3 separate regions of the Homo sapiens genome follow, and all the other regions are linked to region 2. Evidence: fine-mapped QTL for protein levels in blood plasma. A gene starts in region 2. Each other region holds a variant in brackets. All regions are shown on one strand. Distances are between the middles of the regions.

Region 1 (8,179 bases), 15 kb before region 2:
TGGGCAAGTGTTGGTGTCCATCTCAGCCCTGGGCACTGGGCTTCCACGTTCTGAATTCATTAAACTGAGACACCAGAGCACCTGGCTTTCCCTTAATTAATTAAAATATCATGGAATAATCATTGTCTGATGTAATGTTCAAGAAGCCCTCGTAAAGGCTGGGAAGGAGGAAATTCATTAGCGGAGACTTTTACTGTCGCTGGATCTGCCGTTCTTATTCATTTCTCCTGCACCATCCGTCCCTGGAGGAGAGGGCAGGACAGTGTTTTTAAAGATGTTGGAATTAATTTCACCATAAAACCTGAAAGAAAAAAAAATCCACCTTAACTAAAAACTAGCCTTATTTGTGTTTAAGGGGGAAAGCAGATACATTTGGGATTGAACATGGGCTGTGGAATTGTCTTCCTCAAGCCCAGCTGACAACAGAGACAGAGATTCAGTCTGTCCACTGCTTACGGCAACAAGTTCAACCTCCTCTGTCTGCATTGAGGGGTGTTGCCCCAAACTACTACCCGCCCACCACCATAGCTCTGAGCAGCAGCAACTGGCCATTCCTCCCTGTTCACAAACTACACTGCATTTTTCTACCCCGACTCCTTTTTGCATGCTGTTTCCTTAGCCTGGAATCCCCCACACCCACTCCTGCCAGTTCAAATGCCTGCCTCCTCTTCTGGGAAGTCTTCCTTGATCTCCCTCTGCTCTAACCACAAAGCAGACACCATATGCTGCCAGGGATGGTGACCTCATCCCACCCATGTCTCCACTGGAGTCTGAGTTCAGGACCTGATTCTACCTACTTTCATATGGGAGGAATCCAGATGATTCCAAACATATGACTTTCGGCATCTTGTACCTGTCTGGCACCTGGAGAATGCTACTGTGTGTGTGGGAGGGGACAGAGCACTATCTCAGCAAGTGAATTAAGTACTAGAATGCGTACACGGCAGGACACACATAGTCAAGGGCAGTAGTGTAAGATGATTAGGGCTGGTTAAAAATTTCGGGCAAGGTGAACGGTGGGGCTGCGATCGCAACCAGGCGTGGGAGGTAAGGAGGATCTAGACTAAGTAGCTGAAGTGGGCATGCAGAAGGAAGGACAGGAGGCATGAGGGATGATAAAGGAATACCAGTGGGACCTGCACCCACCTATACAGCATTCCTACAACAAAGACACCACAAAGACTGTCCTTAAAAACATTTATTTTTTTCAGGGTGCAGGGGTCGTGACATCATGACATCTACAAAAACGGTAGAAAAACCCAGGTTTGGTGCGGGGAGTGGGGGCATTGTAATTACGTCTCCAAATGCTAACAGCTGTGGCAGCGCATGCTCTCTTAGCCTCTGAAGAGGTCTCTGGGCGCTCACACTTGAAAAACCATGAGGTTGGAACAATCATGTTAATGCGCCTTTTTGGTTTTGGTGAAAATTTCAGACAGTGTGACATTAATTATTTGTCTTTGCACAGAATGATGATGCTAAAGCCAGCCCCATACAGTCCTGATGCTCAGTACTTCCAGCATGGGCTCTGTCCACCCTGCTCTCTGGGTCTACATCCAGCCCTTCAGTTTTCACTAGGCAAATCTGAGGTGAGTCAACTGAGTTTGCAAAATGTGCTTATTAGCAGGTGTGGGATGTTCTACTACCTTCTTCAGAGCCACAGCATTCCTGTTCCTTCCCACATCATTTCACTAAGGGTCTGACCAACTCATCTCCCAACCATTCAAGACACAGGAGAATTAACTGCAGGCCTTCACACATGGAAGTCAGTCACAGTGCGTGGAGAAGGGAGGGGCGGGAGGGGCTGAGTGAGGAGTGGATGTGAGCAGGTCCCCTGGCAGCTCCAAACCCCAGTAGACAAGAACAGCTTCCAGTGCCATCCATTTCAATTCTCATCTTTTGTTTTCAAAGAGAGCTTCCAGTGTTTTAAAGTTTGAAAACCACTCATCTAGTTTTATTCCCTTTTTACTCAAATAAGGACACTGAGGCACAGAAAGTGAAGGAGACTTGCTCAGGGTCACACAGCGAGCCGGGGATTAATATGCAAATGGATCTCATGTTTCCAGAATCCCAGGCCAGTCTCCTTCTGCTGCATAGTACAGAAGGTGATGCCATCCCAATATATTAGACATGGAATGGCAGGCTTACAGGCGGAAAGTTCACTTCCAACAAGGACTCCAAAATGTAATGCACAATGTGAGCGGTGTGAAAGTGTGCCTTAAAAGTTGGGATGAGTCTTGATAAGAGTCCCTGAAGCCTGTGGATTGGCAACATCTGCCTTTACATAGTTTTGAGATGACCCTGAGTAGCAGCACCGTGGAGTAGAGAGGGGACCAAGGAGGGCCAGGTGCCCTGAGCTCTGCTCCTCTTTCAGAGGCCTTCAGGCCTTGGGCAAGTAGCTTCTCCTCTCAGAGCCTGGTTTCTTCATCTGCTAAAGGCAGGGACATTAACACCTGTCCTGCCCCATCTCCCAGAGTTGGGATCAAGCTTTATGAACTTAAAGGACTGTGCATAGTAAGGGCTCTCAATTCTTATTTTAAAATTGTAATCACCTAAGGATCTATTTTTTTAAGATAAGATAGCAAATATTCTCCTTTCTTTTTTCATTAAAAAAGAAAAAAAAGAGAGCCTTACTCTTGGGTGAGGTCAAAATGTTTGTAGGTAAAATATATTCTACTACAATCTAATTCCACAGTCTGGAGATAACACCTGACCCCTTTTTTTACAATTTGATCGTCAGAAGCCTGGTATCCACCGCTTCTAACCACCTGTTTAGAGAATGCTAGGCTAGGCCAAGCACAGTGGCTGATGCCTATAATCCCAGCACTTTGGGAGGCCAAGGCAGGAGGATCATTTGAGCATAGGAATTTGAGACCAGCCTGGGCGGCAACATAGGGAGACCCTGTCTCTACAAAAAAAAAAAAAAAAAAAAAAAAAATAGCTGGGTGTGGTGGGGCATGCCTGTGGTCCCAGCTACTCAGGAGGCTGAGGTGGAACGATCACTCGAGCCCAGAAAGTGGAGGTTGCAGTGAGCCATGATCACGCCACTGCACTCCAGCCTGGGTGATAGAGCGAGACCCTGTCTCAAAATAAAATTTTAAAAAAGAGAATGCTAGGCTAACAAATGGATGCTCTGGTCTCCAAAGACCCAGCCAAGGCGCTCCTGAGTCTGGTAAAGCATCCCACCTAAAACTAAATCTCCTTCAAAGGGAAAAAGTTAGGAATAGAAGAGCTACAGCCAGCTGTCCACACGTTGGGGTAAAGCAATGGAATTTGTTTCTGAGGGAATACCATTTTAGAAAGAACACTAAGACCACACTTCCTGTTATTTTCCCAAAAGGCCATCTTAATCTAGGATGGCAGGGCTAAAAGGGACATTGATAACATCCAGTTAAAATGCCATACTCACAGATGAAGGGACCAGGGCCCAGAGAGGGGAAGGGATCTGTTCAGGTCACACAGCAAGTTACAGTCAGGCAGAGGACAGCTGGGACCCTCATCCCTCCTTCTACAACACACACTAAGTCACAGAGCACCACTAATAGGTCATAGACAAATGAGGTAAAGAGTCACAGCTGACACGAGCCCTTTCGAAATTGCAAACATGCCGTTCTGTGATCTCCCTGGAAGAGAATAATTACAAAAAGACTTCTCATGGAACAATTCATTTCAAAAGTATAAAAAAGCCACATGCAAATCCGTTTCTCACTGTTTGCCCTGCTAAAAACTACATCTGCATACA[G/A]ATCTAGTTTGCATCTAATTTTTAAAAACACACAAAAGGGGTCATCTACACACACAGGTTTTCCAACTCTTCATGAAGCACAAAGATCCGTTATTTGACTTTTCCATCATCCCATGATCAATGTTTCTAAGACCCTAGGAAGAAAAGGAGAGAAAGAATTAGAGAACGTAAGCCTGCTCCGTTACAATCAACTATGTGTTACATGGAAGGTGGGGGAAATGATCCTTCACTTCGAATCTCTCCCCAGCAGGAAATGGTGCCAGTGGAGAGTGAAGGGCCCTGTGGAGTCCCAAGAAGTACTTTTAAGACCAAAAGGTGGACGTTTCAAAGCAGCAGACTCCAGCTTAATAAGATCTTTTCAACCATTGGAAAATCCACAGATGGCTCTCAGTGGTAGTGAGCTCTGTATCCCTGGAGGTATGTAAGCCAGAGCTGGCAATACTGTGTGTCACAGAAGGAACTCAAGACCTAGGCAGCAGTGATGCTCTTAAAATTCCACAATTTTTCATGGTATCCTTTTGATGTATTCACAACCCAGAATCATTTCTGCCTCAAAATATACGTGTATTTGAAAATTATAGATATATATATTTAAAACTGGAAACATATCTATATAAAACAAGTCACATATCATCAGGAAGACAATTTTAAGACCCAATCTCCTAACTCTTTGTTGAATTCCTATTTCACAGTTTTACATTTTCATATTTTTCTCCCCATTTCTAGGGCCTCTAACTACTCACGTACACCCATCCTTCAATCCTCATGCCACCTCCTCGATGATTCTTCCTTCATTTTCCCCAGTTCTAAGCTGCTTTTCATGCCTTAATATCTCCTCCCATTCCCTTACATCGCACTCCTTGTATTATAATTATGTCCACTTTTTGTTTTTCTGTGATCCCCTACAGACCAGAAGTAAGGCCTTGCACACAGAAGGTGTGCAACAGTAGTGGCTGAAAGAATAATATAACTAAAACCATGGCAAAATCCCCCTGCTTTTGAGAAACCCTATCAGACTTGTTTCTAATTTTTCCTGTTCTATTAAGCACCTGTTGATCAGCCTTGGTAATGGTGCCTGTTCACCACTGCTCCCCCATTCCTGTAAGAGGATCGTGCAGGCCAGGCACGGTGGCTCACGCCTGTAATCCCAGTACTTTGGGATGCCAAGGCGGGCGGATCATGAAGTCGGGAGATCAAGACCATCCTGGCTAACACGGTGAAACCCCGTCTCTACTAAAAATACAAAAAAATTAGCCAGGTGTGGTGGCGGGTGCCTGTAGTCCCAGCTACTCGGGAGGCTGAGGCAGGAGAGTGGCGTGAACCCAGGAGGCAGAGCTTGCAGTGAGCCGAGATCGCACCACTGCACTCCAGCCTGGGTGACAGAGTGAGACTCTGTCTCAAAAAAAAAAAAAAAAAATGATTGGTCTGTAAATGGGCGGGGCACACATCACATCCGAGCAGAAACTTTAAATGCAATGGTGTGTGCAGCCTGGCCACAGAACGGACATGTTCCACACTGGAGCTGTTCCTCCAGCTGGGTCCTGAATGAGGGGACACATGGGGCAGGGCCACAGCCAGCTCACAGCTATAACATGGAACATGAGCAAGTGATCAACGTCTGTGGCTGTGAACCAGCAAGATTTTGGGATTTTTATGAGCAAAAGCTGGCTTATAAAGTGATCCCTTTCCCGAATTCCCAGTTCACCTGTAGGCAAGGAACAGATGCAACCCCAGCTGTCACCTGTGTGACTACAGACTAGGAGGCCTTGACCAGAGGGGATGCAGAGATTCTCTCTGCCCCTACCCACAAGGAGATGTGTTGCAAAGCAGCACACAGTGCTGAGGACAGGAAGGCAAGGCCTGAGCCCCAGGAAGGAAGCTCAGGTGTCCTGAACAAGGAAGAGCTCCAGGAACACACAAAGGAAGCTCAGGCATCTTCTTTGTGGGAACATTTTCACATGGACGCTGTCACAATGACACTGTCTGCTACCTCTCTCAGTGCTCTTTCTAGAAGAATACAGAGGAAATATTCCCTCCAGCCCCAAAACACAACTGGTCTTTTCATCTCATGGACACACATCATGTTCACAGCTCTTGTCTTTGCATGCTAAGAAGCTCAGAGGGAGATGTGTGCAGAATATACCAGGGATTCTACTGCTCATCTAAGTATGTCCCTACTCTTCTTTTGCTCTTTCCCTGGTTTCCTCCATTTACGTATTTTTCTTCTTTTTTTTACAGGTCTTATAAGCCACCTCAAATATCTCATAACATGGGTGTAAAATACTGAAAATGACTTAGAACATGTACATTTCTCCATCACATGCGGTCATCGGGAGCTGGGAAGTGGAAGCTCCTGTATTTACTCAGATCTAGAACCGTCACTGTGCTGTGGGACTCAGCCTCTCCCACCATGTTGGCTGCATGGCACTGGTACACACCCTCATCCTCCTTTCGCAGGGGGTTGATCTAGAAATACAACAGGCAAGTTTATACAGTTATATAAGGAACAGCAAAATGACTTCCTTAGTTAGTTCTTAATGATAAGTCTGCACACTTCCTCCTTTTCAGAATAAGGTAAAACTTGCTCTATTTCTCTCCTTGCATTGGCTGCCAAGGAGCACGCAGGTAAATTTCCTTCCCAGGGACCCTCTTGAAAGGCACGCTCCCTATTGTGGCTCTCATCTGAATGATTCCTCCGCACACCTGCCTTTTACTGTGAGCTACCTGGTCTTTTGTATTAAAGGTGCAAGGTATAGGTTATTTGGAAAACACCTCAAGTTAAAAGAAGAACAAAAATCTACTGACCAAAGAATGATCCAGAAAGTATTCCCTATAGGGGCAGCCTCTACAAAATACCACCAGAGATAACCTCTTTTCCCTGTCTTTTCTCCTAAGAAAATAGAGGAATGTGCTTGATTTGAAAAAACCGCACAGCCAATTGCATTCCCAATCTCTCAGCTGGGTGGAGAAGAGTCACCAAGCCTCCCAGAGCTGTGGGTGGAATGAGGAGGTTGTCCTTAGGGAGCACCCCAAGGATGTTCACAGCCAGGTCCATAACCAGCTCGCGTCTTTTTTGCTTTCTCGTTACAACCAACCGCTTCCATCAATTACAAATCATCCTACCGACCACGCGCTGGTGTACGCACATCAGCTCGTTTTAAACTCATGCCAGTCGTGGGGGAAGGGTGAGCATTATGGTCTTCTTTTTACAGGAGACTCACAGGTAAATCACAGACTGCCAGGGCCACAAAGGCCCTCAGAGGTCTTTCAGTTTGAAGCCCTCTTTCAACAACAGTGGAAATGGAGGCTCAGAAGGGTACAGTGACGACCCAACATGGACCCCTATCTCCTCATTCCATCACTCTTTCAAACATGTGGCATTCTTCATCTTGGTAAAAGTGCTGCGAGTGGCAGGAAAGAGCTCTGGAGGAGGACTCGAATGTGCCACCTTCTACCTTTACCAGCGGGTGACCTTAGGCAGGTGTACTAGTTCCTTGGGCTGCTGTAACAAATCGCCACAAGCTGAGTGCCTTAAAACAAACACATTTCTTTTCTACAGTTTTGGAGGTCAGAGGCCCAAAGGGGGCTAAGATCAAGGTGCCGGCAGGGCTGCATTCTTTCTGAAGGCTCTCAGGAGACTCATTTTCTTGCCTTCTCCAGTTCCTAGTGGATGCTGGCACTCCTTGGCTGTGGCCCTTTCCAACATCATCAAAGCCAGAAATGGTGGGTCAAGTCCTCCTCACATCGAATCACTTCAGTCTGCCTCTGACTCTTCTGTTTCCCTCTTCCACACTTAAAGACCCACCTTTAAATTGGCCCACCCGGATAATCCAGGCTAATCTCCTTATCTTAAATCTCCTTATCTCAGCTGTTTAGCAACCACAACCTCCCTCCCACCACCTTGCCATGTAACATCGTACGGTTCTGGGGGTGAGGACGTGGTGGACATCACTGTGGGGCCATCACTCTGCCCCTGGCAGCAGAACACGTATGTTCCCAGCAGATCTGAAACCTGCCCTGCCTGCCTCACAGTTACTGGAGGGGCCAGTGAGAAATGGGTAAGAACAGCTTTGAAACATGTAATGTGTTGTAGAAATATAAAGGATGGTTTATAATGGTCAGTCAATAATATCCAATAATCCTAAACACTCACCAAAATCCAGGCCGTGGCCTCATGGTCAGAAGGGCCCCCTCGCACTTGGACAGCTATATTGACATGGTCCCCAGGCAGCTCCTCCAGTGCTTGGGTGCCCTCAGGGGACTTCGTGACCTACAGGGGACAGGAATGCCAGGAGGGGGCTTAGAAAAAGCAATTCTGGATAAAGACCATCCCATAGGCTTCCTTGCCCTCCTCCTTCCTCCTCCTCCCACTGACTCAAAAACGGAAACCCTAGCACTGCTCATGCCTATGCAAATGACATCAGTCATTTTTTAAACCTA
Region 2 (8,179 bases):
CTCCTCCTCCTCCTTCTTCTTCTTCTTTTTAGACAGGGTCTCACTCTGTCTCCTAGGCGGAGTACAGTGGCATGATCATAGCTCACTGTAGCCTCGAACTCCTGGGCTCAAGAAATCCTCCTGCCTCAGCCTCCCAAGTAGCTGGGACTACAGGCACATGCCATCATGTCCAGCTAGTTTTTAGAATTTTTTGTAGAGATGGGATCTTGCTGCGTTGCCCAGGCTATCCTTGAACTCCTGGCCTCAAGCAATCCTTCCACCTCAGCCTCCCAAAGTGCAGAATGAAGCTTCCCCCTTCGGCCTTGCACCCAAGGCTTGCAGTGGCCTACCCCAAACTACTCTGGGGTGTCATCTCCTTTCCCAACCATCCTACCAGGCCTCGGCCCTATGGGCCCACTTGCACACCCACCAAAGGGCTCCCACCTCTGAGCCTCAGTTCATGCTGTGCCTCCCCCTTGCTAGCATTGGGATTCTCTCCCCATCCTTCAAGGCTTCTCTCAGGAGCTATAGCCCAGTGCTAAATAGAGGGACAAGTGACAAACCTTGGGAAAAACAGGAAGGTGGACCCAGATTGAGAAACCCCCAAGATTCAAGGCTGGCGGGTGCACAGCACCTTACTGATCAGGTTGCTAGCGGCTAGCTGTGCAGCGCCCATCTGAAAATAGCGAGGCAGGCCAGGCATGGTGGCGCACGCCTGTAATCCCAGCACTTTGGGAGGCCGAGGCGGGCAGATCATGAGGTAGGAGATCAAGACCATCCTGACTAACACAGTGAAACCCCGTCTCTACTAAAAGTACAAAAAACAAAATTAGCCAGGCGTGGTGGTGGGCGCCTGTAGTCCCAGCTACTCTGGAGGCTGAGGCAGGAGAATGGCGTGAACCCAGGAGGTGGAGCTTGCAGTGAGCCAAGATCACACCACTGCACTCCAGCCTGGGTGACAGAGTGAGACTCTGTCTCAAAACAAAACAAAACAAAACAGCCAGGCAAACCTACACTGGAGCCCTTTCACAGCTGGGACCAGCCAGGTGGCTCCAGGGAATTTCCTTCCATGTGCCTCAGCTTTCCCTTCTATCAAATGGGAAGGAGACCTCCCCAGGACACTTGTAAAAATCATGTAAAAAGATGGGTGCAGCCCAGGGATGGTATCTCATGTCTGTAATTTCAGCACTTTGGGAGGCTGAGGTGGGAGGAGTGCTTGAGGCCAGGAGTTCAAGAACAGCCTGGGAAACACAGTAAGATCCTGTCTCTACAAAAAATTCTAAAAATCAGCTGGGCATGATGGTATGTGCCTATAGTCCCAGCTACTTGGGAGGCTGAGGCAGGAGGATTCCTTGAGCCCAGGATCACAGTGGGCTGTGATCAAGCCATTGTATTCCACCTGGGAGATACAGTGAGACCCTGTCTCAAAAAAAAAAAAAAAAAAAAAGGATGCAAAAGCAATTTCCAACAGTAAGAATTATTCATATGTGAGTCTTCCATACATGTGTGCGGATCAAAGGATCACTCTCATTATGTGGCAGTTTGGGGCATTTCAGGGCATAGGAGGAAAGGGCAGAATTTAAGCCTGAAAACTGCTTCCCCAGGCTCCTCAGAGGCATGTATAAGGGCCCTTCACACACTGTGAACAACATAATAAATACTTCCCGAGGCCTCATTCCATGAAATCTAGGTGCTTGGGTACCCAAGGAGTCAGGAGGGGTGATTTTATCATGAATATTGAAGCAGAACAGCCCTGCTCTGACTCACAGTCTGTTTTCCTTCAACCGGGATCCCCAGAGGCATTGTTAAAAAACGCTCCCGCTGTGTCTTGTGAATAAAAGATGGCTTTAGGGCAGCACAGAATGAGCTGCTGCCTGGGCTAGGAAACATCCCCTGTCCAAACCTTCATGCTTTATCTGGACACAAGGGCAGAGGCCACACTAGCACTTCAGGACAGAGAGTGACAGGCAAACAGTGCCCGGTTCTGTGGTGGATGACACAAAGGCTGGTGCGGAAGAAGGGCTGAACCCCGGGGAGGCCTGACGCCTGTCAGTAATGAGATCATGAAAACCAGTTCTGAGTTGCTTCCATGTGGCCCCACGAATATCTTTATTCCCTGGGTCTGTGCCTGGGGTGGGCCTCAGATCCCATAGATCAGAGTGAAGGGGCTGTCACATTTACTTGTCATTTGGTAATTTTCAGTGAATTAGGGGTATGGAGTTTCCATCTGCCATCTGGCCTCACTCTGGTAACCATGGTAACCACCATCTGCCTGACTTAATACTATTAAGTCCTGTGCCAAAAGAGCACTGGACAGGGTGTTGGGACCAGGGAGCTGGTCATCCTTTACTGGTCACCCTGGACAAGGGCTCTGACCTTGCTGTGTCTCAGTCTCTTTCTCTGTATAACAGCAGATTTGGTCTGAATGTCTTTAAGGTGCCTTTCTCTTAGGAAGAGAATGCCACTCTGGGGAGAAATTATCTGAGATCATCAGCAGCATTTATAGTCTGAGGACCTGGTCAGCATTTCTTCTGTCTCCTGCATGTGGAGTTAAAAGTGTTACCTGTCTGGAGACAAAGAGAATTGCCTGTGAATTAACGGCTGAGGAAAGCAGTTATAAAAACGAGTGATAGGAACTAGCAAAAGGAAAGAGACAGGACTGTTTAAGTGCCACAGGGCGGAAACCAACTGTTCCGAGTGAAAGGGACCTCAACAATGACTCCACTGGGGCTGATATGGCCAGAGAGGGGAAGGGACCCGTCCAGGGCCACTCAGGGAGCCAGCGGCAGCACAGATGCACCCCCAGCCAGCTCTGTCCTCCATGGGGAGCTTCAGCTAGGAACAGCCAATGGTGACTTTCCTGTGCTCAACTGGCCACACACTGGTTTTACATTTCCCAGGACTGGAGGCTTCCTGCCCCATCTCCAACAACCCATTGCGTCTCCTGGACTTGGGTACATCTACCTGAACTACTTGAGAGGAAAGACTACTAGATACTTCTTAAGGCTTGGAAAGGTCTCACCCCACCCCAGGCTTCTTTCTTGAAGCTAAGTCATTACACTGACTTAGGCACTAAAGTCTGGACTTGGTCTCTGGGCTCAGGCCAGAATTATTTCCCAGAAGCCTGAACTCCAGGCCGAAACCCAGGCTCCTTGGGACTCACTGGCCACCTTCTCACTCACCCTAAACTCAGCACTGCCCACTCCAGGCAAAGTACACAGCGGCACTTCAAAACCTAGTGGGTGGAATACACTCATGCTTAGGAAGCCGGTAAAGCAGTGCTAACGTTTTGGTTTCTTTTTGTTTGGTTTTCAAAAGGTACATAAAGAGGGTGGGCAACTATAGCACTCAGAGATTATTTTACTGTGATGTTAATGAAGCTTAAGTTTCTAAGTCCCTAGCATTTCATAATAAGTTTCTAAGTCCCTAGCAGTTCTATTCCTTTACTTAAGGCAGGACTCTCCAAATTATATATGTTTTAGAAGCACGAAACCTGAGTCTGCCCCTAATAGCACCACAATCTTTTCAGACCTTACGTCTCCAAAGGTCTTACTTCTCCTGGATGGAGCTCCCTCAGCATCCCAGCTCAGCCCCTTCCCACACCGGGGGCCCTGGTGCTCTGGTGCTGTGGCCTGGTGACTACTGATTCCCCAGTCTGGAACTCATCCTCCTCCTGCATCCTCAACTTCCCTTCCTCCCCTATCCTCTACTTCCCTTCCTCCCCCAACCTCAACTTCCCTTCCTCCCCATTCAAACAATCCACCTAGCGCTGGATACCTGGGAACTCGGATCCCCCTCCTTAACTCCCAGTCTCCTGCTGGGCAAACATACCATGCCTACAAATAAGTGACTGCATCAGCAGGTACTTAAGTACCAAAAGGGGTAGCAGGCTCACCAAAAATTCGACTAGCACAGTGAGTGGCGTCTCCAAGGATTCTCGCCCCAGTCTCTCTGAGCACGAGGAGAGATATGAAATACTGCTCCCTAAGGGGAAACTGAGTGCCAGGCAGCGCCGTCCACCACTGGGCAGGGGGATCCTTCGCTCCACACCCCAGAGGGTTGGAATCCCTCCTTCTCTACCCACCCAATCCCCGACCCTGACTCACCGAACTCGCAAGGGCCGTCGCGCGCCTTGTGCAGGTGACCGGGGTGCGCGCGGGGCGTGTGCCGAGCGCGCAGGCGCAGCGCGCAGACGCTGGGGTACGAGCGACCGTCGGAGCCGCAGACGGTGCCGCGCTGCGCGCACACGCAGAGCCCGGTGCCCTCGGGCGCTGCCCCAGCGGCCTGGCTCGCGCATACCAGGCCGGGGCCACAGCGCCCGCCGGCGCGGCCCCCGCAGCTCGCGCCCTCGGCTCCCAGGCAGCGGGCGCAGCAGCCGCACTCGTCGAGCGCCGAGATCCCGGGCGCCGGGCAGGGCGCAGGCGCCGGGCAGCCCTCTGGCCGGCACGGACCACACTTGGGGCGCCGGCCGCCCACGTCGCGGATCCCAAGGCTCGGGGACAGCGGCGGCAGCAGCGGCAGCAGCAGCAGAAGCAGCAGCGGCAAGAGCAGAGACAAGCGCGGCATGGCTTGCTCCGGGACAGCGGCGGCGCCTCTGCTTCGCGCTCCGCTCCGCGCCCGCCGAGCAGTCACCGCTCCCGCCCCGCGGCCGCTGATTGGCCGGGCCTGCACCGCGGGGCGCCCGCAGACCGCTGCTCCAGCCCGGGACCCGCGCGGTGCCCGCGGCCCGGGTCTCCGAGCTGGAGGGTCGCCCCGAGAGCAGCTCTCCGACCTCCGATTGGACTCTTGAGGGAACCGAGACCCAGTCGGGGCGACAACTTGCCCGAGGTCGCTATGGCAGAGTCAGGATTGGATAACCGTACGGTCTCCGGATCCAAGGCTGGCTCCAGATAGTATGCCCGTAAATCCTCCCAGAAGGATGCGCTATTTTATTTAATTTTATTTTGCATTCAGTAGTTTTCAAAGTTTTATTTTATAAAGAGAATATATGGTTTAAAATGTAGATTTTACATATACATCTAAGGATGAAAAGAGGGTTACCCTACCACCTTGTATCCCCATCCTCCAACTCGGCTTCCAGAGGCCACTCTTGCTATCGGGTTTTTGTATATCTTTTCAGAAATTTTCTCTATGCCTATAAAAGTACATGTGCCTAAAAAAGCCCCTTCCTTTAAAACACACACACTCTGTTTCTCTCTCACACACACAGAGTAGCGTGCCATACACATTAGTCTGCACTTGGTTTTTGCACTTACAGTGTTTCACAGTTTCCCCACCTCTTGTCATCTGTGAAACTGGGTTTCTTATACAATCAATGGGAGCATAGTTCATTGGCTCTGTGAGTGTGTTTCTTAATGCTGCATAAAGTCATGGTACATCTCCGTCCACAGTGACTTTGTTGTGATGAGATATGGTGATATATTTTGGAGTTCATACAGAGTGGCCTTTCCACAGGGTTTAGTTGCAGTTATTTAACCACTTATTTTCCATCCTTTGGTTAATACGAATAATGCTTTGATGAAGTCTTGGTGCACAAGGGTCAGTGTACCTGTGGCTTACTGGGGAATGCATGTTGGAAAGATGCAGTTTCTTGTAGTCAGTTATTCATGCCGCCGTTGCGCCTTCTCTGGGCCAGGCTCTGTGCACACCATCCTGCCTGAGTTCTGGCAGGGCACCCAGACGAGAAACCTAAGAGAGTCTTGGCTGCTGGGATTTGATGTGTTGCTGGGTAAATGCACTGGATGGAGGGAGGGACTCGCTGAGCAGGTTTTATAGGAGACTTTTCCTGCCTTTACTGGCCACCCCTCATGTGTCTTGTGCTCTATTGTTTTTTCTTTGCTGAACTCCTGGAGATGGAGAAAGCCTCTTGCAGCCTGGGAAGACCAGCTACACCGTTCTTGGGTGGGGTTCATTTTGCTTTTCAAGCCCAGTTCCTTCCCAGTTTGCAGTCTTCTTATCCCCAGAAAGGAGCCTCTTCTGAGGCCACTTTATGTGGTGGTCAGAGGAGGGCCATCTGCCTGGTCCACGCCAGGCCTTACCTTACAATCAGCCACACAGAGCAGGGGCGGTTAGGCACCATGAAGGGGTGGTGGTAAGGAATAAATATAACAATGTTGGTAATGCACTCAGCGCAGCTCTCAGAACCTATCAACAGTGACTTTCAACCTGGAGGCTGCTGTCTTTACCAGGAGTGGCCTTTTAAAGTGCTCTCACCGCTTGACCCCTCTGTGCTCTTCCAGGAATCTCTCCTAAAAAAATGATCACTATGTGTGAAGATTTCATCCTGGAGTTGGTTACTATAGCAAAAAATAAATAAATAAATAAAATAAAAATAAAAAAAGTTAACGACCTAAATGCCCACCGAGAGGCAATCGTTAAATAAATTATGGTACATCTAACAATAGAGGATTATGCAGGCATTAACAATTAGAAAGAAAATATGGGTTAATAGAAATGAAAACATGTTTATAATACATTGTTTAGTAAAATAGCGGTTAAAAAGTGCACATCTAATGTAATGGCATATTTGTAAATATGTGAATGTGTAAACATGCAAAAATTTAAGATTGTTTTTAATGATGTGAAGGAAACCCTTTTTTTAAAAAAAAAAAAAAAAAGAGATGGTACCTCATTCTGCTGCCCAGGTTGGAGTGCAATGTCATGATCATAGCTCACTGCAGCCTCAAACTCCTGAGCCTCAAGCCGTCCTCCCCCACTCAGCCTCCTGAGTATCTAGGACTATAGGTGAGCACCACCACGCCTGGCTAATTTAAACAATTTTTTTTTTTCAGAGATGGGGTCTCACTATGAGAAGGAAACACTTATAATGTTAAATGAACAAAGCAGGATTTGCAAACAAAAGAGATAAGCGAACTCCATGCTGCTTTTCAGGGACAACTTTGCTGGTAAGTTCAGACTTTCTAATGGTTCATAGTTGTCCAAAGAGAGATCAGGCTGCTCCAGAGATAGTGAGGTCCTTGTCAAAGAAGGAGTTTAAGAATGAGTCTTGGCAAGGAGCATGGAGGGGGTCAGAAGTAGGGGTCAGGGGAGTTGACGTTTGATTACCTCAAACTGAGCCACCATTCCTGTAGTACAGTGCCCGACCCTGAGACCTGGACTGGACAAAACATGGTCATGATTGAGAAATAAATGTGTACAGAAATGATTTGCCTGCTTTTTATGCAGACATTAAAGGAGGAGTAAGTGAACGGTGTCATAATGAAATTAATGTGTGCTTAATGCAGGTTAGGATACACAATCTCACAGAGGCGCATTTACATATGATCTACATTCCTTTTAAATGGTAGGGAGAGTACTATGTATGCATAACGACTCTTTGAGAATTAAATCAGAAGACTCATTTTCCAACACTGAGCCTGTGGCATCAAAGCCCCTGTATCTGGGTGGAGAAAACATTCCCAAGCTTTGAAGGTGATCAGTCATGTCTATTTCCTTTTAAAATTGCCTGCAAGCCCATAGCCCAGCAGAGGCATTTGTGCTCTTTCATCTCTCTGGTTCCCAGAGTACCAGTTAACACTGTGGGCCACACCTGTGGGCCCCCTAAGATGATAGGAGAAAGTAGGGACAAATTCTCCCAGTCGGGAAGGGGGGTTGAGGTGCCTCTGTTGTCTGGCAGGTGGAGAGATCCCATGCACCTGGGTAAGTAATTAGGCAACAAGAATGGGTGTGATTTTCTTCCTCTTCAGCCTCCAGCCTGAAAACAAACACAACACAGGGAAGACTAGCCAATCCCCCATTCAGAGCAGATGTGTGCCCACCCGGCAGCTGCTGAAGTGGGTATGAATGTCCCATCCATTAATTCCTCCCTTGAACGTAGAGATAAATGGCAGATATTCTCTGTCCTTGGGGAGCTTCCAGCACAGAGGAAGAGAATAGAAGCTCAGTTGAGCAAAGGCCACTCCATAAATAGGCCATGGATTTGAACCTCAAGCTTTAATAGTCAGGGCAATCATAGATAGTCTTCTCCAAGCTAAAGGAAGGTGAAAGCCCTTTCTCCAGACCTCTGGTGGGCGATTACAGAGCAGAAGGCAAGGTGAATTTCTAGAGGGAAGTTCCATAAATGACAGATGGGATTTTTAGGGAGACAGATTTCACTTCAATATTGCATGCAAGGGGATGTAGCAAGATGTAGAACTCTGCAAAGATGGGAATTCAGATACTGAGCAGACGAAAAAGAATG
Region 3 (8,179 bases), 42 kb before region 2:
CTCGGCCTTGGCGCCCACTCTGGCCGCCCTTGAGGAGCCCTTCAGCCCGCCGCTGCACCGTGGGAGCCCCCTTCTGGGCTGGCCAAGGCCAGAGCCGGCTCCCTCAGCTTGCAGGGAGGTGTGGAGGAAGAGGCGCGGGTGAGAACCGGGGCTGCGTGCTGCGCGCTTGCGGGCCAGCGGGAGTTCCGGGTGGGCGTGGGCTCGGCGGGCCCCGCACTCGGAGGCCCCGTGGCCCGCAAGCCCCGGGCAGTGAGGGGCTTAGCACCTGGGCCAGCAGCTGCGCTCGACTTCTCGCCTGGCCTTAGCTGCCTCCCCTCGGGGCAGGGCTGTGGACCTGCAGCCCACCATGCGTGAGCCTCCTCCACCCCTCCATGGGCTCCTGCGCAGCCGGAGCCTCCCTGACGAGCAACGCCCCCTGCTCCACAGCGCCCAGTCCCATCGACCACCCAAGGGCTGAGGAGTGCGGGCGCACGGCTGGGACTGGCAGGCAGCTCCACCTGCGGCACCAGTATGAGTGGGATCCACTGGGTGAAGCCAACTGGGCTCCTGAGTCTGGTGGGGACTTGGAGAACATTTATGTCTAGCTAAGGGATTGTAAATACACCAATCGGCACTCTGTATCTAGCTCAAGGTTTGTAAACACACCAATCAGCACCCTGTGTCTAGCTCAGGGTTTGTGAATGCACCAATTGACACTCTGTATCTAGCTACTCTGGTGGGGACTTGGAGAACCTTCGTGTGGACACTCTGTATCTAGCTAATCTAGTGGGGAGGTGGAGAACTTTTGTGTCTAGCTCAGAGATTGTAAAGGCACCAATCAGCACCCTGTCAAAACGGACCAAGCAGCTTTCTGTAAAATGGACCAATCGGCTCTCTGTAAAATGGACCAATCAGCAGGATGTGGGTGGGGCCAGATAAGAGAATAAAACCAGGCTGCCCGGGCCCACAGTGGCAACTGGCTCGGGTCTTCTTCCATGGTGTGGGTTCCTTGTTCTTTTGCTTTTTGCAATACGTCTTGCTGTTACTCACTCTGGGTCCACACTGCCTTTATGAGCTGTAACACTCACCGCAAAAGTCTGTAGCTTCACTCCTGAAGCCAGTGAGACCACGAACCCAGCAGGAGGAATGAACAACTCCAGAGGCGCTGCCTTAAAAGCTGTAACACTCACTGCGAAGGTCTGCAGCTTCACTCTTGATCCAGCGAGACCACGAACCCACCAAAAGGAAGAAACTCCGAACACATCCGAATGTCAGAAGGAACAAACTCCGGACACGCCACTTTTAAAAACTAACACTCACCGTGAGGGTCCACGGCTTCATTCTTGAAGTCAGTGAGCAAAGAACCCACCAATTCCGGGCACACCACCGCTACATCTACCATATGCTGTTGGTCACACAGACCATCCCTGATACAGTGTGGGAGGGAACCCCACAATGCAGGCAGCTGGGAATACCAGGAGGCAGGGTTCACTGGGAACCATTTGGAGGCTGGCTACAACATTCTTTAAAAAAAAATTTTACTTAGACCAAACTGATATCAACCAACGTGTTTTTGGCCCAATGGCCTTCAGTTAGATCACAGATGGTTATGTGGAACCTGAATGGAGACATTCAGGTCCAACAGTGTCAGTTTCTGGTGAGGGCTGTCTTCCTCGTTTTCAGATGACTGCCTTCTCCCTTTCTTGCTGTGTCCTCACAAAGTAGAAGAAGAGATGGGAGAGAGAGAAGGAAGGGGGGTGGGGAGAAAAGGGAGGGGGAAATTTGACACAGAAGAAGGAGGTGACAATGTAACACTAGCAAGACGAGAGGGGAAGGAGCTATGAAATAAGGAATCCAAGAAAAACAGCTTTAGAAATTGAGAAAGGCAAGGAAATGTCTTCTCTCCTGGAGCCTCAGAAAGGAGCAGGGCCCTGCTGATGCCTTGAATTTGGCCCAGTGAAACTGATTTCACACTTCTGACTTCTAGAACTGCAAGAGATTGGTTGTGTGTGGGGGGTGGGGGGGAGGGGTTGGTTTTTGGTTTTTGTTTTTGAGTCAAGAGTATCACTCTGTTGCCTAGGCTGGAGTGCAGTGGCTCGATCTTGGCTCACTGCAACCTCTGCCTCCCGGGTTCAGGCAATTCTCCTGACTCAGCCTCCTGAGTAGCTGGGACTACAGGCGTGCACCACCACGCCTGGCTAATTTTTGTATTTTTAGTAGAGATGAGGTTTCCCCATGTTGGCCTGGCTGGTCTCAAACTTCTGGCCCCAAGTGATCCACCTGCCTCCACCTCCCAAAGTGCTGGGATTGCAGGTGTGAGCCACTGCACCTTTCCTTGGACGTGTGTGTTTTGAACTGGAAATTTGTAGCAATTGTTACAGCAACAATAGCAAAGGAATACCCTGCATCATATCCATTTGGTACCATCAGGAGAGTTTAGAGCAGGAAAGAAAGCACACCTGTGGTCCCAGAGCTGCATGTACTAGAGGTTTCAGGCTCACAGAAGATGATGTTAAGGGGAGCAGATACTTTTTGCAGGGTAATGAGTTGCACTGATTTCCAGCATGCTCAGGTGAGGCCTAGTGGAGTCAGACCTCCCGGGGTAGAATCCACCACTCACTGGCCATGTAACCTTGAGCAAATTCTGCAACCCCATCGTCTCAACGCTGGCTACATATTAGAATCACCTGGAGCACCTCAAATTATACCCATGGCTAAGGCCTACCCTGAGAATTCAAGTTGGCCTCAGGAGAGGGGCTTAGGCACCAGTACTTTTTATTTTAATCTTGTTTTTAATGGACCTTCAAGAATCAGACCAGAATCAGTACTTATTAATATAAGGCCCCAGATGATTCTAATATGTAGCCAGCACCAAGCACCACCCCTATCTCTCTAAATCTGTTTCCTCCTCTAAAATAGAAATCAGTGTTAGGTTACCCCACGTGGGTGTGATGAGCCTCAAGTAAGGTAATCCCTGTAAAGTGAGTAGGACATAGTAAACCACCAATTCATTACTGTGACTCACGACTGACTCCCTGTGGATGTGCAGTGGTCCTTTTCCCTCTTGGGTCTCAGTATCCCCACCTGTACCTGGATCATCTTTCAGTGCCTCCTGCTATATCCCCTCTTATGAATAGAAAGATTCAGTAGATCACTTACTCAGTGACCTTTTCAGGTGCACTAAAACCAAGCATTTCACACCTTAGGGAGACACAAGGCAGGATCTAATCAGAACTCTGCATCCCTCGGGCTTGGTTTAGGGATTCTAGTGCCACATTCAAAGCACAGAACAGGCGCCTGGGCCAATGTCACCTTGGTAAGTGTCTGCCTCCCAGCGTGCCTTAAGGTTGCAGGAAATTGCCTATTTACACGTATTCTGCTCTGACAGGCACACCAGAATTTTAAAATCCTCCTTCAGGTTTCTCACAGATAAGATGGGGAACTTTGTTTACTATGGATTCCAGGGCTTCCTGAAGAGGAGGCCTTTGAGTTTTCGAAAATAATTGCTTTTCCTCTCCTGTGCTCTCCAGGGGTGGTCTTTGGCCGGAGGAAGAAATGGCTTTGTTGCTCAGGAGAGCTTTGGGAATGGAACTCAGGGGCTTCCAAAGAGCAGCAATCAGGAAAACAAGCAGGGAGGATCCAGGTTTTGCAAGGCCTGAAGCCTGCACACTAGGGAGCCCCATGCTCTGTGAAGGAGAGAACAGTGATAAGAAGAAGATAATGATTCAGCAGCTTTGCAAACATTGTTTGGTGAATAAACAGCCCCGTTCAGTGCACCGGTTTCTTCCTCCCATCATGGGACAGGTGGAATGTGATCTGAGATGCCAGCCTTGGTCAGCTGGAGGGTTGTTCAGCTGCCTCGTGACTCCTCCTCGGTAAGA[G/T]TGAAAGAGCCTTTCATTCCCTAAATAAACATGTCTATTAGAGGCATTGATCTGTCCCCAGCAGGCAGTAATTGCACCTCAAATGCCACAGATGCACAGCCTGGGGTTCTACTCCACCCCGCCCTGCCCTGCCCTGCCAGTCTCCCTGCCTGGCCTGGGACGGACCCTGACCCTCCTTGGGGTTCAGGCTCTTCTTCTGTACAGAGTCACAAGGCTGTTAATTCATATTCTTCCCATCACAGGGATGAACCCCTCTGGCTCAGTCATAAATGATAATATAAGACTCGTTTTCCATGGAAAAGCCCTAGTACAGCCATACGGGTACTTTAATACAAAATGCTCACCTACCAGTTTGTAAGCAGCCCCTCTCTGAGCCCCTAGGTGCCACCTCCACTCTGTCCTCACGGCCCTTGGCCTGGGACCCCCTGAACTTCCGCATGACTCACCATGGCCAACCAGATCACAAGGGTTAGGGTTAGGGTGAGCACAGAATTACAGCCAGGCTTTGTGCCCATGCTCCATTCCTCAGTATATCAAATCTCACCCCTGGGCCTGGGCTGGGGCCCCTGCACAGGCTCCAGCCCTTCTTAGCCTAGAGAGAGGCTTCTTGAGGAGATTCTCCCATCCTTTAACAGCAGAATCCAGCCTGCCTGGATTCACTGAACAGGAGTGCAGCTGGGAGTGGAGCCATTTCTGAGCCGGTGAGCCCTGATCTGTCTGCTTCTACCTTCATTTCTAACAGGTATTTCTGGCCCAAGAAGTTGGGCCTGGGAGGACAGACCCAGCCCAACCATCCTCCTGTGAAGGACCCTTCGTGACGGGGTGGAGGCCACACTCTCTGGCTCCTGCTCCTGATCACTTTCCTTCCCGTTCCTCATGAACATGTCCAGGCATCAGCCCAGGGGCAGATCTAGGAAAGCCTGGAGCCACCGGGCCCCTTGGAGCTTCCTCAGGGGCCACCAGAGGGTGGGGGCCCGGTAAGCAGCTCCCTTGCACCTGGCTTAGTCTGTAATCTAGTGCAATCCCTTCACCGTGAGGATAATTGGGCCCAGAGGGCTCATGGTGAGTCAGACAGCCTGGGGTCCAGTCCCCAGCTGGGGGCTTTGCCCACAGCACCTTGTGCCCTCTCTCCTTTGTGGGTCTATCCTCGTCCTCACACACGTTGTCTCTCTGTTCCAGGGAAGGAGTATTCCATGGCCCATAATCCGTGTGAACAGATAGACAACGGGAAGCATCTTTGTTATTCCAACACTGGGGCAATTTCTTTCACCAACCCGTAGCAGAGGCCTTAATGAGGCTTCAGTCTAGCTGAAAAGGTTGTCCAAACCCCACACGTAGCACCAGGTGAGCCATAACTAAGACTGGACTATATGTGGGCTCTCACTTTGGACCCTATCCAGACCTTCCCACTCACTCCCTGTGGGATCTACAGAAGTCTTTCCCTTCTCTGGACCTTAGTCTCCTCATCTATACAATGGTGATGTTGGACCAGAAATTCTAAGGACCCCCTTTCTCCTGATCTGTTCCTGATTCTATAAGGCCAGGGGTGGGAACAACCATCCTGGAATCCTCTCAGGAAAAAGCTGCTCAGGCAGGGTGCAGTGGCTCACGCACTTTGGGAGGCTGAGGCGGGCAGATCATTTGAGGTCAGGAGTTTGAAACCAGCCTGGCCAACATGGCGAAACCCCGTCTCTACTAAAAATACAAAAATTAGCTGGGCATGGTGGCATGCATGTGTAATCCCAGCTACTTGGGAGGCTGAGGCACGAGAACACTTGAACCCAGGAGGCGGAGGCCACAGTGAACCGAGATGGTGCCACTTCACTCCAGCCTGGGTGACAGAGCAACACTCTGTCTCAAAAATAAAAAAGAAAGGGCTGCTCTTCCTTGATGACTCACTGAGGTACACCTATGGTGGGACCTTTAGAATCAGATTTGGAGAGGGGAGACAGTGCAAAGTCAGTCACCTCCACTAGCTTGCCTAGTGCTTTTAAGAGTGTGGCATTCCAATCCATCACATTCCTGGAAAATAGTCAACCCTCTGCAAAAATAATTTGTGCATTTTACCTTCAGCTACTGCACGTTGGTTCTTCTCTCCAAACCATAAATGTCAAGCACTGTGGAAGGTTTTCTTTTTATTACTTTTTATTTTTGAGGGGGTAAATACCTTGCAACAGGACCACTTTGGTGAGTTCTGATGCCAGTCACAGCTTAGAAAGTGTCAAGGTAGTCATGCTGGATAGAATCTAGACACAACACATTTGCAGGCGAAGTCACTTTCTGGAAATAACCATGACGGAGTCAAAGACTCCTCAGAAACCACTTAGGCCAGTGCTTCCCAAATATGGTTATATATCAGAAGCATATGAGAAACTTGGCCAGGTGCAGTGGCTCATGCCTGTAATTCCAGCACTTTGGGAGGCTGAGCGGGGTGAATCACTTGAGGTCAGGAATTTGAGACCAGCCTGGTCAACATGGTGAAACCCCGTCTCTACTAAAAATACAAAAATTAGCCGGGCGTGGTGGCATGCGCCTGTAGTCCCAGCTACTCAGGAGGCTGAGGCAGGAGAATTGCTTGAATTGGGGAGGCAGGGGTTGCTCTTCCTTGACGACTCACTGAGGCACACCTATGGGGGGACCTTTAGAATCAGATTATCAGATTTGGAGAGGGGAGACAGTGCAAAGTCAGTCACCTCCACTAGCTTGCCTAGTGCTTTTATGAGTGTGGAATTCCAAGCCAAGCTTTGCAATTGCAGATGCACCACTTACCAGTGAGTAATTTTCTCTTTCTGAACCTCAGTGTCCTTATCTGTCAACCAGAGCCAGTAATCTTTTCCTCATAGCAGAGTTGGAGGGGTCTGTGACAGAACCTCCTAGTTAGCCCCCAGTGTCTCTCTTCCCACCAAGCCACAGAAATGAAAGCCCCAATATTCTGACCACCCTAAAGACTCTATTTCCCAGCATGCCTTGCAGATAGTTGTACCATGTAGGTAAGTTCTGGCCAATGGGATATAAATGGAGTTGTTTGGGGGTTAGCTTTGGGGAGCCTTCCTCTAAAGCCAGAGGCATGCACACTTTGCCCTTTTGTCTTCTTCATTCCCACCCGCCTTCTGATCCCTAGAATGTAGATGTGGTGGCTGCCATTTGGGATCATGAAGACAGTTTCCCCTGCTAGGGGTGACCAGTGGGAATTGGAAGGGGTCCACCTCCTTGAGCATCATTGAGCCACCTCCCTCACCTGCTTCCCTCTGGGCTTCCTTTACTTTTTTAGAGAAATCAACTCCCATCTTATGTAAGCCATTTTTATACGAGTCTCTGTTACTCAGAGCTGAACTTACTCCTCACTCACTGCCATAGGATCTGAGGAAATCAAGTGGTTCTCATCTAACCAAGTCACCCTTATGCCTTAAATCCCTCTGATACTGACAGGAGGCAGCCAAATGCCTAGGCAGATAGGAGTGGTCCCCAGTGAAATCCCACCTCCAAGCCAAAGACAGTTCAAAGCCTAAAAGCCAAGCTACAAGTTAGATCCTTGGACCAGACTGAGAACCTGTCTTCCCATTTGGCACACCTTCCTCTGACTGATCACACCCTTCACCTATTTTACACAAGCCTACCCTTTTCTAATTGGTTTTCTACACTCTCATGCCCTCCTTTGGGTGGTGTCTTCGCTTTAACCTTTTTTGCATGCTCACAAACCAATTAACACGCATTCCCCATTCTGAGTCCATAAAAAGCCCCAGACCCAGCCACACTGAGGAGAGAAACCACCCAGCTGCAGGGCTGGGGGACCAATTCCCACATCCCCTCTCTGCTGACAGCTGTTCTATTGTTCAATAAAATTCTTCTCTGCCCATCCTCACCCTTCTACTGTCAGCATGTCCTCATTCTTCTTGGATGTGAGACAAGAGCTCAAGAACTGCTGAACACAGGTACAAGCTATAACACAGGTGGGACAAGTGGGTAGGGTGTCTCTAACGGCAGGCCTGGGACCCAGAGAGGCCCAGGCAAGGGGGACATCGCTGACCAGAGGTCCCAGCTGGCAAAGTGACTGAGAAGCATCCTGTGTCACTTCTGTGCCTCCTCAGGATACATCCAAACTCCTTAGCAAGGCACTTCAGGCCTTTCATGATCTTGGCATGATCTATGGCTCCAGACTTGGCTCTCAATGGCCCCCACTTATCCCATCACAGCCCAGGCACCAGCCAGGAGGAGGTTCTTACTGCACCCAAAGCCACAGGGCTCCCTCTCATTTCTGACCTTTGGCACATGCAGCTCTGTCTTCCAGAAATGCTGTTTCTCCCCTTGATTCAGCTTTC

Direction of the effects. Alleles are on the strand shown, and positions count from the first base shown. The strength of an association depends on the size of the effect and on how common the allele is.
For the plasma level of the protein whose gene starts at base 4,575 in region 2, G is the low allele of the variant in region 1 and A is the other (strong association).
For the plasma level of the protein whose gene starts at base 4,575 in region 2, allele T in region 3 goes with a lower level than allele G (strong association).

Evidence for each region. PIP is the posterior inclusion probability: the model's chance that the variant is causal. The UK Biobank Pharma Proteomics Project read protein levels with antibody pairs (Olink). The fine-mapping took linkage between variants from a reference panel, not from the people measured, so its PIPs are less certain.
Region 1: its variant is fine-mapped to the plasma level of the IGFBPL1 protein (UK Biobank, PIP above 0.99).
Region 3: its variant is fine-mapped to the plasma level of the IGFBPL1 protein (UK Biobank, PIP above 0.99).

What each region holds. Positions count from the first base shown.
Region 1 is chr9:38,405,345-38,413,523 of GRCh38, forward strand. IGFBPL1 (insulin like growth factor binding protein like 1) reads right to left here. Exons shown (of 5, transcript NM_001007563.3): 3 at 7,893-8,009; 4 at 6,047-6,205; 5 at 1,184-3,873. The coding sequence ends at 6,056. Among named protein-coding and RNA genes, the nearest start is that of IGFBPL1, 15 kb to the right of the region's middle. The variant G/A (reference allele first, on the strand shown) is at 3,740.
Region 2 is chr9:38,419,880-38,428,058 of GRCh38, forward strand. It overlaps IGFBPL1 (insulin like growth factor binding protein like 1), which reads right to left and starts at 4,575. Exons shown (of 5, transcript NM_001007563.3): 1 at 4,086-4,575. The coding sequence starts at 4,545. It overlaps LOC105376041 (a long non-coding RNA gene), which reads left to right and starts at 4,732. Exons shown (of 8, transcript XR_007061487.1): 1 at 4,732-4,871; 2 at 6,771-6,884. RefSeq lists an enhancer at 5,620-8,179.
Region 3 is chr9:38,377,451-38,385,629 of GRCh38, forward strand. It overlaps LOC107987065 (a long non-coding RNA gene), which reads left to right. Exons shown (of 3, transcript XR_001746670.2): 3 at 3,510-3,755. Among named protein-coding and RNA genes, the nearest start is that of ALDH1B1, 11 kb to the right of the region's middle. RefSeq lists an enhancer at 3,353-4,301. The variant G/T (reference allele first, on the strand shown) is at 3,861.